Linked DNA regions of Homo sapiens. The protein of the gene in region 3 purifies or fractionates together with the protein of the main gene of each other region. This does not show direct contact. Each region holds a gene or a part of one and is shown on either strand. Other genes may lie near its edges.

Evidence for each region.
Region 1: the proteins of IFTAP (region 3) and RO60 purify together in Homo sapiens (affinity purification with mass spectrometry; one large-scale study listed by BioGRID and IntAct). This does not show direct contact.
Region 2: the proteins of IFTAP (region 3) and LANCL1 purify together in Homo sapiens (affinity purification with mass spectrometry; one large-scale study listed by BioGRID and IntAct). This does not show direct contact.
Region 4: the proteins of IFTAP (region 3) and GNPAT purify together in Homo sapiens (affinity purification with mass spectrometry; one large-scale study listed by BioGRID and IntAct). This does not show direct contact.

Annotation. Positions count from the first base shown.
Region 1 is NC_000001.11:193,072,261-193,076,890, reverse strand, and holds part of RO60 (RNA-binding protein RO60), read right to left. Parts: intron 1,072-4,630; coding exon 851-1,071; intron 391-850; coding exon 244-390; intron 1-243. UniProt on the Homo sapiens protein: RNA-binding protein that binds to misfolded non-coding RNAs, pre-5S rRNA, and several small cytoplasmic RNA molecules known as Y RNAs.
Region 2 is NC_000002.12:210,452,189-210,456,818, forward strand, and holds part of LANCL1 (glutathione S-transferase LANCL1), read right to left. Parts: intron 3,127-4,630; coding exon 2,919-3,126; intron 1-2,918. UniProt on the Homo sapiens protein: Functions as a glutathione transferase. Catalyzes conjugation of the glutathione (GSH) to artificial substrates 1-chloro-2,4-dinitrobenzene (CDNB) and p-nitrophenyl acetate.
Region 3 is NC_000011.10:36,655,964-36,660,229, reverse strand, and holds the end of IFTAP (intraflagellar transport-associated protein), read right to left. Parts: intron 1,212-4,266; coding exon 1,044-1,211; 3' UTR 958-1,043; downstream 1-957. UniProt on the Homo sapiens protein: Seems to play a role in ciliary BBSome localization, maybe through interaction with IFT-A complex.
Region 4 is NC_000001.11:231,265,212-231,269,841, reverse strand, and holds part of GNPAT (dihydroxyacetone phosphate acyltransferase), read right to left. Parts: intron 4,550-4,630; coding exon 4,422-4,549; intron 4,131-4,421; coding exon 4,055-4,130; intron 3,829-4,054; coding exon 3,677-3,828; intron 3,566-3,676; coding exon 3,435-3,565; intron 2,163-3,434; coding exon 1,939-2,162; intron 1-1,938. UniProt on the Homo sapiens protein: Dihydroxyacetonephosphate acyltransferase catalyzing the first step in the biosynthesis of plasmalogens, a subset of phospholipids that differ from other glycerolipids by having an alkyl chain attached through a vinyl ether linkage at the sn-1 position of the glycerol backbone, and which unique physical properties have an impact on various aspects of cell signaling and membrane biology.

The DNA.
Region 1 (4,630 bases), on a different chromosome or scaffold from region 3:
ATTTTAGCAAAAAACAGTGATTATGTATACTCCTTAGATTTTTGTGTTATTGTAGCTAATAACTACATTTCATATAGAAAAGAGAAAAATGAAAATGTATTAAACTTACACTTAAGAGCCATAATGCAATTTGGTATAATGAACATCTCGAAATACCTTAAAAATGCACTGACGGCATTTCTAAAATTTAGGAGCCACTTTCTCAGTTAGTAGTAGCTAATAAAGAACAATGATAATGCTTACCTTTTTTAATAGTTTTTCATTACACAGTTTTTCACATACTAAAGATACTTCTGAATTTCCTGGTTCAAGTACTGAATTAGCAGTCATCTTTCCTAGATTCCTTAGTAATGCAGTAAGCGGCATTTCTTGTAACAAAGCCTTCCATACCTATTGCAATAACATAGGCAGAAATACCAGGAATTAAGGGAAAATAAATCAGTATAACATACCTATATAAAAAAATATTCATAATACAGTCTCTGAGGCTTTCATTTGGGGTTCAAAGTACTTTCAGAATGAAAAATGTCTAAGTAAAAGGCTTATCAAATAAGCTAACTTGTTTTTTACTAGAAAAAGGATGTGAAGTATATTTTATGAAGGAAATGCATAGATGATTTTTTTTTTAATTAGCAAGGCAGTAGATTTTCTGGAGTGAAACTAACACAAATGCCACCTACATCATGTTGGACATCATGGTAGGTGTTTTAAACAGACATCAATTTCAAGATATATTTTAAATAATTTCTTTTTAAAAGTATAAATATATAGCTACCCCAAGTTTATCCTTTTAGCACCTACACTAAATTACTCATGTTTAATCACATGCTGTAACATATAATTCACTCACCTCTTTAGACTTTAAGTGATTTGTTAAAAGATGTTCTCTAACTAATCTATGTTCTTCTATTAGATGAATGACTTCTAGCTCATCTCTTGTGCGCTTCACTTTCTCTACAGCCTCCAGATACTTTAATAATTTTTCAGTCTCCACAGAGAGTGCTTTTTCTTTATACAATTCATGAACTTCTTTCCAGCCCTTTGTAATATATTTGGTCACAATTGCAAGTCCTTTAACAAGATAAAGAATTGAAAAAGCATGCAGGATTACCAAGTAAAAAAACAGAACATGTTTCCTCAAAATGCATTATATGATCAACATAACTGGATACACAAGAGTTAATGCCCTTACACTGGGATGCTGCTTTCCATGATATAACAATTAAGCAAATGGGGTGAATTAATTTTCTTATTCCATCATTACTATTTAAATATGAGACTTTAGAGTAAAAAAACCTGTATCCTGAGTATTTTGTTACAGAGGCTTTTCTTTCTTTTCTTTTTAAAGACACCAGCATTAGAAAGTTTCAGGTCCATAATCTCAGAACAACTCACGAGAGTACAGATCTATCTCAATTAATATTGTATTGTATTGTAATGTATTATATTATATTAATTATATTCACTTGTCTCTTTTTGCTGTTGAATAAAATATATATATTTACAAAAACAGCAGAAATAAGTAGAAGTGGACAGGGTAGCTTCTTTTACACTATGTTTTAATAGCTGAGAAGTATTACTGCTCAAAAAAAAAAAAAAAAGGAAACAGTAACTTGTTGATTTCCTCCACAATTTCTTCCAATAGAAGAAAGAGAAAAGAGCCTTGGATTGGGGGTGAGAAAGTCTGGGTTCTAGCCTATACTCTGCCAATAAATGGTGGTCTTTCTAGGTCTTAGTTTCACCACTTCTGTAAAACAGCAGGGATTGGATTACAACATTAAAATGTCTATGAGGGACAAGCAAATAAAATAAATAAAACCACCACGGTGAGGCCAGGCACCATGGCTCATGCCTGTAATGCTAGCACTTTGGGAGGCCAAGGAGTGTGGATCACCTGAGGTCAGGGGTTTGAGAACAGTGTGCCCAACGTGGCAAAACTCCATCTCGAAAGCTGAAACTGGATCCCTTCCTTACACCTTATACAAAAATTAATTCAAGATGGATTAAAGACTTACATGTTACACCTAAAACCATAAAAGCCCTAGAAGAAAACCTAGGCAATACCATTCAGGACATAGGCGTGGGCAAGGACTTCATGTCTAAAACACCAAAAGCAATGGCAACAAAAGCCAAAATTCACAAATGGTATCTAATTCAACTAAAGAGCTTCTGCACAGCAAAAGAAACTACCATCAGAGTGAACAGGCAACCTACAGAATGGGAGAAAATTTTTGCAATCTACTCATCTGACAAGGGGCTAATATCCAGAATCTACAAAGAACTCAAACAAATTTACAAGAAAAAAACAACCCCATCAAAAAGTGGGCGAAGGATATGAACAGACACTTCTCAAAAGAAGACATTTATGCAGCCAAAAGACATATGAAAACATGCTCATCATCACTGGCCATCAGAGAAATGCAATTCAAAACCACAATGAGATACCATCTCACATCAGTTAGAATGACGATCATTAAAAAGTCAGGAAACAACAGGTGCTGGAGAGGATGTGGAGAAACAGGAACACTTTTACACTGTTGGTGGGACTGTAAACTAGTTCAACCATTGTGGAAGTCAGTGTGGCGATTCCTCAGGGATCTAGAACTAGAAATACCATTTGACCAAGCAATCCCATTACGGGGTATATACCCAAAGGATTATAAATCATGCTGCTATAAAGACACATGCACACGTATGTTTATTGCGGCACTATTCACAATAGCAAAGACTTGGAACCAGCCCAAATGTCCAGCAATGATAGACTGGATTAAGAAAATGTGGCACATATACACCATGGAATACTATGCAGCCATAAAAAGGATGAGTTCATGTCCTTTGTAGGGACATGGATGAAGCTGGAAACCATCATTCTCAGCAAACTATCGCAAGGACAAAAAACGAAACACTGCATGTTCTCACTCATAGGTGGGAATTGAACAATGAGAACACATGGACACAGGAAGGGGAACATCACACACCAGGGCCTGTTGTGGGGTGGGGGGAGGGGGGAGGGATAGCATTAGGAGATATACGTAACGTTAAATGACGAGTTAATGGGTGCAGCACACCAACATGGCACATGTATACATATGTAACAAACCTGCACGTTGTGCACATGTACCCTAGAACTTAAAGTATAATAAAAAAAAATTAGCTGGGCGTGGTGGCACATGCCTGTAATACCAGCTACTCAGGAGGCTGAGGCAGGAGAATCACTTGAACTGAGGAGGCAGAGGTTACAGTGGGCCAAGATCGTGCCACTGTGCTCCAGCCTGGCCAACAGAGTGAGACTCTGTCTCAAACAAACAAACAAACAAACAAACACAGTGATGTAATAGAGAGTTGTTAGGGTGTGGTGACTGAACAGAGTGTGCCCTGACAAGTGGTGTAGACACGTATTGACTTAGTGCTGCCAAAAGAAAAAAAACTTACTTTCAAGAGAAGCCAGAATATGGGTTTTTATGTCGATTTTTAAAGATAATGACAAAGAATTCATTTTTACCCAAAAATATTGTATAGGCCACATGAAACACATCTCTATGCCAACTGAGCCTATTATGTTATTTTTGAATGCTAAATAACTTGATCAAAAGTTAACACTAACATGCAGGAACTTCTCAAGTATTGTGACTCTTGCTATCTTCCAGATTTTGGTGCAAAATCATCTTAAATGAGTAAATGTTTCCTGTGAGTATATCTTCTATTTTGTTTTTCCAGTGAAAATAAAAATTCCTTAAAGCAGTTTTATCCTACCCGGTTCTGTAATTGCGCTGGCCATGCAGTGGGTGCACAATAAAAATACCATACCTGATGACTTGAATCACATTTTGACTTGTTTTGTCTGTTATAAATACACATTACACTTAAAGGCATTAAAATACTATTAATTCTGTAGCTTAGAGTTTTTCCAAATTTTTAAGCTTTGAAATGCTAGGGATTCTCTGTCCAATGTGATATTGCTATTACTAACATGGTTTCAACTGTGAGTTCTGCCCTCAACAATTTCAAATTAAAGAATCCTATGTGTGGAAGTAAGTTTAGGAAACATCTACTAATTCCTCATTATATAGACCAAAAAGACAAAGCACAGAATAATTATTTTCACAAGTTCAGAAACTAATTGGTCCAGTTAGAACTAGTAATGGGCGGTCTTTCTCTTAGTCTAGTACTTGCTCCACACTTCCAAGACACATCTCAACAAACCAATAAATAAAGCTGGATGCCTAAGTCCTTCTTATGTTGGATCAAATATTTGGATAAAAAATTTAAATGTAAAAAATAATGTTTCTTAACCAAGAAAATGTTAGGAAAAAACCACAGATAAATATTTTAGGTTGGAAAAGGCCCTTCTAATCCTAACACAAAACATAAACCTATGAAGACATGGATAAATTTGACTACATTAAAATTCAAAACTTTAGTGTGCCAGAAATGTCCCCCAACCAAAAAAAAAAAAGACAAAGAAAAAAAAGAAGAAAAAATGCATGCACTGTATATAAATAATACATTATCAACTCCTCTAATATGAACCCCAAGTTCTTAGAACAGTTTCTATCCATAGTAGGTGCTCAATAAATATTTGCTGAGGGCCAGGCACAGTGGTTCATGCCTATAATCCCAGCACTTTGGG
Region 2 (4,630 bases), on a different chromosome or scaffold from region 3:
TATTTTACCACAATAAATATTTTTAAATCCCTTTTCTGCTTATTAAAAAAAAAAAAAAGATGTCCATTACTGACTCGTCACACTACAAGAAGGGAGGTTATATATTTCTGGACCAGAAAGCCAGAGCGCTTCATCATTCTAAGTACTGGCCCCAAAGCACTATAAATGTTAGGTTAGCCATCTAATTGGGAACAGGCAACACACTTTATTCATGTTGTGGCACTGATGTGTAGAAGTGGGTGGGATGAAAACAGATCTGATATGTATCAGGCAGTAGAACAAATTAATGCAATGTATTGTCCTCCCCTCCACTCCCCAGCCATTTGTAGGACAATTTGAACATGAACATACACACACACACCCTCCTTTTGGGGAGTTATAGATCCCTTTAAGAAAAGCACAAATGCTCCCTCCTTGAATATAATTTGGGGGTTTTATACACTGCCAGAAACCCTAAGATTCTGGCCCAAGGTTAAGAATATGTACTATAGGGAAACACTGATTTCCTTGGATTTCAATTTCTGTAAGGATTAGACTTTTGATGATCTCAAAGGACTGTCTGGTCTCTAAAACTTAAAAATTATGCTTTTGAAAGAACATTACATTAAGAAAATGTAGAAAAAGCAAGCTAGCTAGAACATGATGTTGGCAATGAAGCACAACAAAGGCAGTACACAGAGAATGTGAGCGTGGGATCTCAAAAGGTCTGTAAAATGAGAAAAAAGGTTTAGTAAAAAGTTAAAGGAGGTTTACTAAATAACTTATATTAAATAATTTTGGATTTCTTGAAATTAAGTCAAATTTCTAGATTTTTCCTTTGAAAAGATAAAGCAAACTCCGTAACTTACAAATCATTCCAAGTCATTCTTTTTCTGTTTTGTATAAAATAAAAAATCTGAAAAAAATCAAAGCTATAGCCACAAATAGTGTATTTTCCTATTATATTCACATACTATATTTTTAACCTTAACAAGCCTACTGGCTATAAATACTGTCGAAATGTCAAAATTTAAAAAGGTAAATGACAACAACACCCTTAGTACCAATATACCAAAAACAACAAAAATCTTAGCATACTCTTAGGAGCATTTTAATACACTAATATTGATATTGTACCATTTCCCAAAGAGTGTGTTAGAATAGGCCCTCAAGATTTCATGAAGAAGAGGGTTGTATAGGTGAGTTAACATTGGCAAGTGCTGCTCCCTAGAGTTGGCGTGTTGTCCCCAGGTATACAAGCTACAGAAGAAGCTAAGCAGCCGGTAAAGACACATATTTAATTTTGTTTAATTAGTGCTTTGATACAAATTCCCATCTGTTTGAATCTATGAATCTTGGTCTCATTGAACACATTAACATTTCTCACATAGCAAACTATTAAAATGTGGCTGCATGTATTATGGAAAGGCTGGCATTATATATAGAATATTGGGAGCACTACAATTTATCTGATGGTACTTAACAAGTGATTCACTGAATGAGAGTATCTTGTGGACCTCTAAAGCAGTTGTTGGCTGATGGCTTTAAACATCAGCTATGTAAAAAAAATTAAAAGGTAGTCTCTGTGTTTCAAATTTAGGTGAGTATGGAACAGTTTTTGTATTGGCAAGTCTTATGCAAGTCAGCTACTATGGAAGGAACACACTTTAAACTTTGGGGGAAATCACTGTTTTGTTTCATCTTTCATTTTGGTCGAGCTTGGTGACAGGTTTTATATTAAAAGCTTCTCAGCTCTGGAGTGGAATGTTCAGTTTTTTTCCTCTAGACACACTAAGTAATGTGTTTTTAAAGTTATACTATGTAATGTCTAGCCCCTAAGAAATGTAGCATAGGCATGTATTTAAAAAAAGGTGTTTTGAAGAATACGTCAATTCAGAAAATGATCCAATATAATGATTCCCAAATCATTTTGGGTGGAGCAAGACTCCCACCCCTTCTTTTTGTTACACTTTCCAGTGGAAAAAGTTAGTTACAATAAGAAAATATCACTGCATGGGAAAAAATTGGGAGAGAAGGGAGATATGCATACATACACACACACACACACACACACACACACACACACACACACACGCCTAAACAATAGGGGTATAAATCATTCCTTTTTTGAATACAGCACTATGATATCTTAAAAAGTCCAAAAAGCCTGTTGTTTAAATATACACCAGCAAACAGTATAAGATTAGCCAACGGATCCTAGACAAACTAAATTGGTGATGGTAATGCCATCCTAACAGTAATCTATAAGAAAGAATAGTGGGAATCAAACACCATGGTCAACTCAGGGACAGTCACTGGTTAAAACGTTGCTGGAGTGTTAGCACGCGCAGTGGAGCCTAAGAGCGATGCATGCAGAGTTGCACGGCAGCCAGGGTTCTTAGAACTCCGAAAGAGTGCTTAATAAACTCTGGTAAGGCAACAATTAAAGTCTATTAGTACAAACATTTAATAATTCTTCATAATTCACCAGCTTCTAGTGGACCACCATAATTTATACCAAAATGAAAATCAGGATGTGCATGTCATTGCCTCTAAGAAAGGCCGTTTTGAATCAGTCTGTGGTCCCTTAGAAGGACTCTCCCAGCCCACCTGTAGGAACTGAACTGCATTTCCTTGAATTACAGATCTTGGATAGCACTTTGGATTAGTAATCATATGTTAAGGCTTTCGATCTCATTTACATTATTGAACTGATGTTTAATCTGGAACATGACAGTGTCTTTTATCTTGCACTAAAATAGGGATTATAATCGTTGTTCCTTAACTACAACACAGGAATATGACAATTGATCAAATGACAGCAGTGAGATTTATCTGCTAAGAGAAAAGTAAACTCACTAGAATGTTCTTTTGTTAACACATGCAGAATTAATGCATAATGATGCTAGAAAATAATCCTCATATAGAAACATGATTACCGTGTGATGCAATCTTCTGCCTGCTTCTCATTGTTCATCTTGTGATATAGCACAGCGGCCACTGCCAGGGGGCCTGCATCCCCACAAAGGAAGGTGATGGAGCGCTTGGTTAAGCAGTTCAGACTTTGCTTTACATAGCCATGTGCTAACTGTAGGTAGGCAGGGTCCCCAAATACATCATAAAGATGTAAGTAAAGCACAGCAATACCTGAAAAAAAAAAAAGGAAACAATGTAAAGATGAGGAAAGGCAGTTATTTTATTATTTTTGGCATGGTGTCTACTCAGCAGCGATTTTTGATAACCTGTAGCAAATTTATTAATGATCTGGAAGTTTGGGTGACTTTAATTCTAGGCTCAGCTCTATTAGTAAGCAACTCTACGAACCAGCATAAGCCAACCACTTACTTGTCCTCAGTTTCCTCATTATGACAACTCTATTAAATAATAAGGTCTCTAAGGCTCTGGCCAATAAAGAGACACACAGCCTATTATTAGTCTTTGTTGTACTCTGGTTATTGTGTTAATGTATTCTTCTTGATGTCGAAATGATGTGTCATTAAACTAGGGTTCCAAATAAATGTAATTGATTTACCAATAATTATTTAATAAGAAAGGGTTTGTTGTGAACTAAAGAAATTCAAAGACCAGGGAATGAAAATTTCAATTTCTCTTTACGTAAAAGTTTGTTTTGTGTGTGTGTGTGTTTTTTTTTTTTTTTTTGTGAAAAGGTAGTTAATGTAACCAAATCCCCTGCCCCAGTATCCTTCCAGGCAGGGATTATAAGAAAGTTATTTGATAGCTGAGAAAAAATATTCAACCCCTAGATTTTTTTCTGTCGAGGGCCCACCTACTTTGGTAAATGTAATGTAAAAGCCACCAATGACTTTTGCCTTGGGCTCTACTTGATCAGTTTCTTACCCTACTCTTGAAGCCTGAAATATGTAATAGAGGCATTGTCTGCATGTCCTTATTTCAAATGCCTGTCACAGTGGAAAGAGCCTTCCCTCTGAAGCTAACTGGTCTCAGGGCAGACTCAAAGATGTGGAGTAGGAAGCCTGCCTGCCTGCCTGCAGCATATCCAGAAACCCATTTTTTCCCTTGAAGTACATTTTCCATCTCATTTGCGATTTTTAGAAGACACAGAACCTCTGTTTAAATTTAAATTAATAGAGCCAATCTTCACGGATTTCAATGCAGTAAAAATGCTGTCTGCAAAATTACTTTCCCTGTACTGAGGACAATTTTAAATTTAGATAGTTTTCTCATTTTGCATGGGTAATCTCCAAAGCTTTGTGCTACAGACAATTCAATTTCACATGTATATTAAGGCCAAATTTTCATTTCCTGCCAAAGTTAATAACCTTGACTGCTCTTTCAAAGTGGCTTGGTGTTAGTAATCCCACAAGCTGATGATCAGATGCATCAATGCTTAAGGTTTGTAGACAAGTGTACAAAACCTTGTGTGTAGGTAAGAAAAAAAAAAAAACCCTTTTCACAAATGATTGATGTCAAGAGCTTCTTCTAAAATTAGGTCCTTAATAGGCTTCATCTCCATCCATATCACGCATCTGCAGGTGATCCATTTAAATTGTTAACCTTTCATTTTGCCCTCCTATTCCCATTGCTGCCTGAACTCTCCTAGTTAAGTTATGTAAGCACCAAAGCCAGATAATGACATGATGGAGATCTGAGAAAATAAAAAGTGATTAAA
Region 3 (4,266 bases):
CCACACACACACACACACACACAAAAAGAAAACTAATCGCAAAAAATAAAACAACAAAAAAAACAACTCTGGTGTGGGATATTGATAGTAAGGAAGTCTAAGTTGGGGAGACGCAGGGGGTGCATGAAAACGATGCTGTCTTCCTCAATTTTTCTGTGAACATAAAACTGCTCTGAAAAACAAAGTGTGCTTAAAAGAAAGAGAAAAGAAAATCAGTTAAGTACATTCAATTTGTTAGTAATTCCTTCAATAATAAAAATTCATTGAAACATATTACTCCCCCTTCCTCTGGGCCTTCATCCCTCTTTTCTCCTTGCCTTAATGCATGTATGGGTATGCTACATAATTAGCGCTTCATCATGTGTTTTTATATTCTCTAGTTGTTTTGCCTTCTCAAGTTGTATTTTAAGCTTCTGGAGATAGAGATCTTCCTTGTATTTTGTAACCGTTATCACACATGGTTTAATGGTAATAATGAAATGCAAGAATTTAATATGTGACATATCATCAATTCTCAGATGACTTTTTTAAGTAAAGCCTTTCCCAATCAATTCCAGAAGCCTAATCTCTCAACAACACTCACATTGATAGCACTATCTCTGGACAGCTAGGACCCAGACCTACTCATATTGGCAATTTTTCTCTAATATGCTACAATGTGTTTTCATCTGCAATTGTTCTTTACTCTCAAGAAAGTGGGATCATGTTTCTGACCTTTGATACAGCACCCCACATCACTTAGTGCAATGCTTTCATCAAAATGGATCTTTCCATAGATGCTGATTCCTGTTCCCATTTCCCACTCCCATCTCCTCCAACCAGCCACAAGATGCAACAATGACATGGCGAGAGAGAATTCTGTAAGGGCGGCAATCTCCTTGGCCTTGTTGCTCTATATCCCTAATAACAGGTAACTCTGATAAATGAGTGCACACATGTAAATTTCCACAAAGGGAATTATAGTAGGTTTATCTTTTATTCTAATGTTGCTAGAATAAGAACAAAATTAAAATAAGCACACACACACAAAATGCCTCTGTGAATCAGTCACAGGATTTCTCTAAGTCTGGGCTGGTGTCCTTTCTCTTCTGCTGCTTGCATAGCTCTTTGATGTTCTCTATCTCTGCAGGACTAAACTTGGAGGTTAGCATCACATTGTCATAATCAAATTCTTCATCAAGTGAAAAAAGTTGAACTTCATCTCCAAGTATCTATAAAAGGTAACAAAGGAGGAAAAAACATACACAATCATTGTAAATGAAGATAAAGTTGAAAAATTAACTCCCTATTAATATTTAATTAAACCTTTTTTCAGACTTCAGCACTCTCAGCTGATTAAGCTGTTTTTAAGTAAAGAAATAAATTTAATTATTCAATTTGACCTAATTTAAGCCTCTTAATATGCTCCATTTGTACCATGCTCTATCTGAATGAATATCATTAACTAATGCTGCCCAAGGCAAGAATCAGAAAGTCTCCCTTGCATATACTCATTATACATTTTACCACTTGTAGTGTCAGGACTACAGAAGCATACAGAAAAACCAACAGTTATATTAAAATGTGAGAAAAATATACACTAAGATTTTTTTATCAACCTTAAATAGATTTTCACCATTTGCTAAAAAAGATCTATATTAATAAAACTTACTTTTTAAAGATAAAAATACCCTACATTGAATATACTTCTTCAGATAATACCTATAACTCTTGGCTAATAACAGTAAAACTTGAAACATATTTTAAATTTAAAAGTCCAGGATCTCTTTGTTTCTACCAAGAATTTAAAAATATTACAGTTTATCTATAAGTAAAGTAGTTACAAAGAGATGTAATAATTTTGAATCTATTCATAATTTGTGAGTTTTAAAGACTTCCTAAAGGAAGGCAGATAAAAAAGCATATTTTCCAATAAACCAAGAGTATGCCTTAAATCTCTTGTATCGCCCCCTAAAAAGCCTCTCCAAAAACAAATGGTGTGTGATACAATGAAATCATCCAGTACTTCTATGTAGCTCCACAATATGCATAGTGATGCTGAAATAATTGAAAACTATGGTTTATGCAAGAATGAAAAAATGTCCCGAAGCTATAATCAGCTTTAAATATTCTTGCATGGAAGATGATCTCATTGAGTGGCTTATGCAATGTTCGTAAAAATGTAGCATGTAGCTCAGAAACTATCTGCTGTTACTAAAGGTGAAAGAAAAAATAATGAGTAGTTATCTCCTATCTGTTCCACAAGTTATGTTTTGAAGTTAGGTGTGCAGTGCTAATAGCAAACGCTCAGCCATTTATCATCTTTTGTTAGTAAAATCAGCAGGAGAACAACTTCTGGAGATGCGTTCATTTCCTGTTTATCAGAAAGGACCTTAGTGCTTTCCTGACAAAACTGCCACTGGGTTTCCATGGTGAGTTTGCCACGGTGAGTTTCCACCATGTGTCAGCCCTGATACTAGGAACCACGTGGCATCAGCAGTGATATTCAAGCAACCCTGCTGGTAGTCACTGTTACCCCTACCTTATAAAGCTCTGAAAGGTTAAGTAACTTGCCCAAAATACACAGTTAGTAAGGGAGAGAAGCAATATTTGGATCCAGGGTAATCTGCTTCAAATAAAGCCTCACCTGCTCAACAGAAACACCAGCAAGAATCAACCTTGAAGTTTCCACTAAGCCAAGTCACAGCCTTTGGAGAGAAGACCTTTTCTAAATAAGATGATCCATTCTCACAGCCTACCATTAGAAAACTGTACTCAAGGCTACATGTAATACCATGACTATCTTAAAACCCAGCTGTACACAAAAAGCAAATCAGCCTGCAAGGCTGATCAGTCCATTTTGATCACTGTCTGAGATCAAATTTATCATCAACACAGCCAAAGTGACAGTGGGACAATCTTGCTTAGATGGCTCAAATGCAGAAACACACACACACAATGACACAAGATGTTCATTTCCTGAATGTTAACTGTTCTTGCTGTCTCCAGCTCTACTCAGCAGTAAGTACTGAGGCCTGCAGGCTTGGCTACAACACCATCTGGAGCCGATTCTAGCTGATCCTGGCAAAACATAAGGAGGAGAACCTGTTTCCACCAATATATTCAGTCTGATGGGAATTTTGCTGCCCTTTCATGCCTGGGTAAAGGCCTTTCATCACATGTCTATTAAGCTTCAAGCTGCCTATACCTGCATGTGTCCCCTATACTAGGTCTTTAAATTCTACCTTCAAGCCTCTAAAACCTGCCTACACCTTACTAGCCATCCTCACTAGATGCAGTCACTTTGTCTTCACCCACCTCTCACTTAGGGGTTAGAATACAATTTCAAATTAGACAAATCCGTTTGCTGTGTTAAAATCTCAGTGACACCATACCATGCCCCCGACTCCCTCTACAGAACACAAATAACCTCAATCCCCACCTCCCTTACCTTTACTTGTTCACTCAATAAACATTTATTATATAGCAGATTCTGGGAACATAAAGTGATTATAGCAAAATCTGTGTCTACAAGGTTTCATAACTTCAAGGAGAAGACAAAAGTATAGGAATGATTTCAGTATCACGTGCTTTGCTCTCCAATAGAGGAATGCAAAAAAGGGAAACAGAAGCATAGAGAGGAAAGTGCAGAAGCTTCACTTACTCTTCTATTTTTTTTTTTAAACAGAGACTCCCTCTGTCACCCAGGCAGGAGTGCAGTGGCATGATCTCAGCTCACTGCAACCTCCGCCTCCCAGGTTCAAGCAATTCTCCTGCCTCAGCCTCCTGAGTAGCTGGGACAACTGGTGCATACCACCAGGCCTGGCTAATTTTTGTATTTTTAGTAGAGATAGGGTTTCGCCATGTCGGCCAGGCTGGTTTCAAACTCCTGGCCTCAAGTGATCCACCCACTGCAGCCTCCCAGAGTGCTGGGATTACAGGCATGAGCCACTGTACCTGGCCTCTTACTCTTGATTGAGTTTTGCCAGTCTCCAGAAAATCCTACTAGCCTCCCCACACATCACTTCACTTATTACCTACCTCATCCTAGCAACCCAGATAAAGTAAGGCCTGTATTTCGGACTTACTTCTAAACTCTGATCAGGGCTCCCACGGCCAAGTTGGTTATAGATACGGCCCAACCCATTGCCTTCTTAAGATTCTCCCTTCCCTGAGGTCTCAAACTACCTTGTGGCTATAATATCCAAACTTATGGTACTAGAGATGTAGAAATTTATTCTTAAAAATAGAAACATCTTATTTTCCTTTAAGTTTTTTTTAAATACA
Region 4 (4,630 bases), on a different chromosome or scaffold from region 3:
GAACAGAACTGTAGTGACACTGAACAGATACTCTTAGTTATGGATTAGTTATGGCATTTATCCCATCCTGAAAAAGCAAAACACTTTAGAAAAACAAGTACCTATGTTTTCATATGTTCCTGGGCCAAACAATGATGGGTTTGAGCCCTTTTAGCTATTTCTCATGACATCCAACACTTGCTACTTGTATCATAATTAACACATCCTTTGCCTCCTACCAGACCCAGCCCATCACAGCACTGAGAACAGGTGTCTGATTTGTCTCTCTCTTGGTGACTGGCATTTTTGTCAGTAAATCCTCCTCATCTCTTGGCTGTGCCCTGAGTGCCTCCACTGCTGCGGCTCAGGCATCTCAGGCATCCTGCATTTCTCATTGGGACAGAGCAGCCTCCTAACTTGTTTCTATACCTCCAGTCTTCTGATGGTGGATGGTGGGGAGGAGGCGGGGAGGTCCATCTTTATTTTCCATCTACCCACCACCCCATCTGGGCCAACACTTTAATATCACTGATGAATCTCTGGGGCCCAAGCCTCCCATCTTGCATTCCTCATCCCTGCCTTGGCGAGGATCCTCTCCTGGTCTTCCTGAAGGGTTCAAAAGTCGCTTCTGTGAAGTCTTCCTGAGTATGGTCCCTTTCCTCTGCAGCACTCTCAGGAACCCTCTGCAGCATGCATGTTGCTCCTTGTCTCTGTTCACTGAACCCTCACAACTTGTTTACACATTACCCACCCACCCTGCCCTCTGCAACCCAGGGGAACGTCCAGGATGGGGATGGCATCTTGTTCATCTTCATATCCCTGGTAGTACCCAGCACAGAGGAGGTATTCAGTATTGGGTTGATCAAAGAACAGTAGGTACTTGACTTCAAATAATTATCTGGTCTTTAAAAAAAAACGCATTTCCAACTGTAGCCTGTACAATTTTTTTTTTTTTTTGAGACGGAATCTCGCTCTATCACCCAGGCTGGAGTGCAGTGGCGCAATCTTGGCTCACTGCAATCTCTGCCTCCCAGGTTCAAGCAATTTTCCTGCCTCAGCCTCCCGAGTAGCTGGGATTACAGGTGCACGCCACCATGCCCGGCTAATTTTTGTGTTTTTAGTAGAGACGGAGTTTCACCATGTTGGTCAGGCTGGTCTGGAACTGCTGACCTCGTGATCCGCCCGCCTCAGCCTCCCAAAGTGCTGGGATTACAGGTGTGAGCCACCACGCCCGGCCTTTTTTTTTTTTTTTTGGAGATGGGGTCTCACTATGTTACTGAGGCTGGTCTCGAACTCCTGGGCTCAAGTGATCCTCCCACCTCAGCCTCCCAAGTAGCTGGGATTATAGGTGTGTACCACCATGCCTGGCTAGGATTCATGACTTTATTTTCCACCGTACTAGGTGCCAAGGAAATGGTATTCTAGTCCTCAAGATATTCAGAGTCTCGTAGTGGGAAATGACATGTAAACAATTATTCTCAAATAATCAACGTGCTGTGTTCACTGTGTCCTATAGTGATAAAAACAGATTTGGTGTCCTTTCTCTTTTTCTTTCTTTTTTGAGACAGAGTCTCGCTCTGTTGCCTAGCTGGAGTGCAGTGGCACAATCTCGGCTCACTGCAAGCTCCGCCTCCTGGGTTCATGCCATTCTCCTGCCTCAGCCTCCCGAGTAGCTGGGACTACAGGCGCCTACCACCACGCCTGGTTAATTTTTTCTATTTTTTAGTAGAGACGGGGTTTCACCGCGTTAGCCAGGATGGTCTCAATCTCCTGACCTCGTGATCCACCTGCCTTGGCCTCCCAAAGTGCTGGGATTACAGGTGTGAACCACCGCGCCCGGCCTGTCCTTTCTCTTTCTGAGCAATCCTTTGCTCAAGTCCTCTATAGATTTTTCAGGTCCAGGTTTTAACTCTTCCAAATTAAGCAAGCATTCTCAACACATATGTCCTACCTACATACCAGGCCAAATGAGAAACCCTCCAAATGCCTGGGTTAAGCCTTTTAGCCATAAAGTCTTTTCCACCAGAGCATCAAAGTCCATGGATGGCCGGTTCTGAAGCAGAACAGCAACTATTAGGGTCCAGGGGCTCAAAACCATGTTTTCAATTTGCAGAAGCTCCATTTTGTAGGCAACTTCAGTGACAAAGGCATGCATGTCCTCAGACTGTTTCTGAGGAATGTATCTAAAAGGAAGAGCACAGAGCAACAAATTACAGTTCTGTTACTTAGACAAATGGGGATGGAAAAAGACTCTAGACGTTTTAGAAGGCTTCTCATACTTTGTGCCAACTGAATTCTCTCAGGTCAGGTGCAAACAGTATTCCTTTGCTTTACTATAGTGTAATCTGACCATACATTTCTGGAATATCCTCTTGAGAGATGGTAAAAATACTGAAGGGGTCCAGGGTCCTATTATTCCTGGTTCCAGGCAAAAAACTTTTGTTGCTTCCTAAATAGGATACATCGTTTCTCTGAGAATGGATGCCTGCCCCAGTAGACTAAATTACTATCTTTTCAGAATGCATAGCACGCTGAACATATCTCCATTGTAGAACACACTTAACAGATTATATAATAACTATTTTATACTGAATGGGTGCCATTCAGTTTGTCTGACTTCATGCATGGATTACCAAACTTTGAATAGTACAATAAGGCCTGCACAGAGCTGGCTGGAGCAGAGATACACACATGACCTAAAAATTGCCACACAGGTGGCTTAATGTGAAAGATGCAGCCAGTAAGGGTGCCCTGTACTAGGTAATAGCCAGCCAAACCAATTTGAGATCTAAAGAGAGAGCCTGTGTCAGGAAAAAAACTAACATAAGCGTCTGTGATGACTAATGTAGCTGCTGGGAAACTGCTAAAGCTACAGATAAGTTACAAATGATGTTGCAGCACATGAGGCCTGGAGGGGCAGATGGTTTGTCTCCCTTACTTGTCCAGGTATATTTCTCCTAATTAAGAAAACTCAAATGTGTATCTGTGTTCTTTATCCTGAAAGAACCTAATATATTTTCTTGCCTATAAAACTATAACTCTCTAGAGACTAAGGACTCACTCCCATTCATTACCATTATGCAATCCTTTCTAGGGTCAAAAATAATAGTACATACTTTGGCTAGCTTACCAATAGTGCTCAACAATTCCTGCACATATACTTGTTAATAATGGCATTATTTATTCCCACTTTAGTTCCCTTGAGAAACATGATCATTGTCTGATTTTGCATATTTGACATACATATCTCACAGCTTATCTTTTTTTGGGACAAACACATAATTCTTCTTTAATTGAAGGTTTCCACTGATGAAAACGGAATGATAACAGCATTTCTGATCATTTTCTCTGTAATCTTAAGTAAATCAAGAGAAGTGGTCAACTCCAGCATTGCAACTCACACCTTTGGATTTTAATCCTCATTTCTAAGACAGTTATTAAAACACAGGTCACACCTTGGAACCAAGTTATATGAGCTCCGACTCATCCTCCCAGCTGCCAAAGATCGAAGTGACACAGGATCTCCAAAGTACACATGGATGCTTCCAAAATTTTCAGAGAGAATCTTTCTGGCTTTCAGCAACCCCTAATAGTACCATAACAGGGGGGGAAGAAAACGAAAAGCAGTAAATTTAGAAATTAGTTGATGTGTCAGTCAGCACATTCTCTCAATTAAGCTAAAATCAAGCTCACGTACAGTTGTAGACTCTTTTGGTTTAGGAACCCCTAGAAGCTCATACACATAAAGAGTTTCTTCCAAGATCTTATCATAACTGATACTAATTGGGACAAGGTAGGTATCAAAAACTTCTCTTTTAAAAAATGGCTCCATCACAATATTCAGAAGACCTGCAAAACACAGGGAGAAATGCTTCATCAACATATTGAAGAGCAGAGCAAACATGAGCACATAAACGGAAAATACTAAAAGCATACATTATACACTAATCCCGTAAATATCAACAGTTATACATTTACACTTGAAAAGAATATCTTGTTAAATAAAGCGTCAAGTTTTATGTAGCAGCTGATGTCTTTGGGTTTGTATTTTTCCTTTTAATCTGTAGTGACCTACCAAATTTAGGAGTCAATGTCTTGGCAGAGCGGCTTCTTGTCCCTTCGAGGAAAAATTCAACAGGAGCATAACCATTCTTTAAAGAGAAAACAAACAAAACACAAAACCCATTGCCTACTCTCAAAATGATAAATGCTTCTTTTGATTCCTTTTCCCAAGCTCCCTCCCAAGCTTCCTGAACAAACACAGCTTACAGTGAAAATTAAACAAGAGAGTCACACAGATTAAACCAATTGCTGAGGTTATAAGCAGTTCTTGAGGGAAAGCAAAATAGCTAAGTGTTCTATTCAGAAGTTAAGAGTTTAAATGAGCAAACATCAGTGAAGAAAATATGGCTTAAGAGTAGTTGGGAATTATTTGCATTTACCCGTAACATAGTTTTTACATATTCAGAGAATACAGCCCAGTAGAGTTTATTGCCACCAAAGGTACGCCGCATGAAAAAGGCACCCGACATTCGTAGCAGCTCACCAACCATTTTCATTCCCAGGAAGTCTAAAAAAGAGGGGATAATATTTATTTGCAGATCTTGAAATCTTCTATAAAGATCTAAACTTAAACATGCTTATTTTTCAT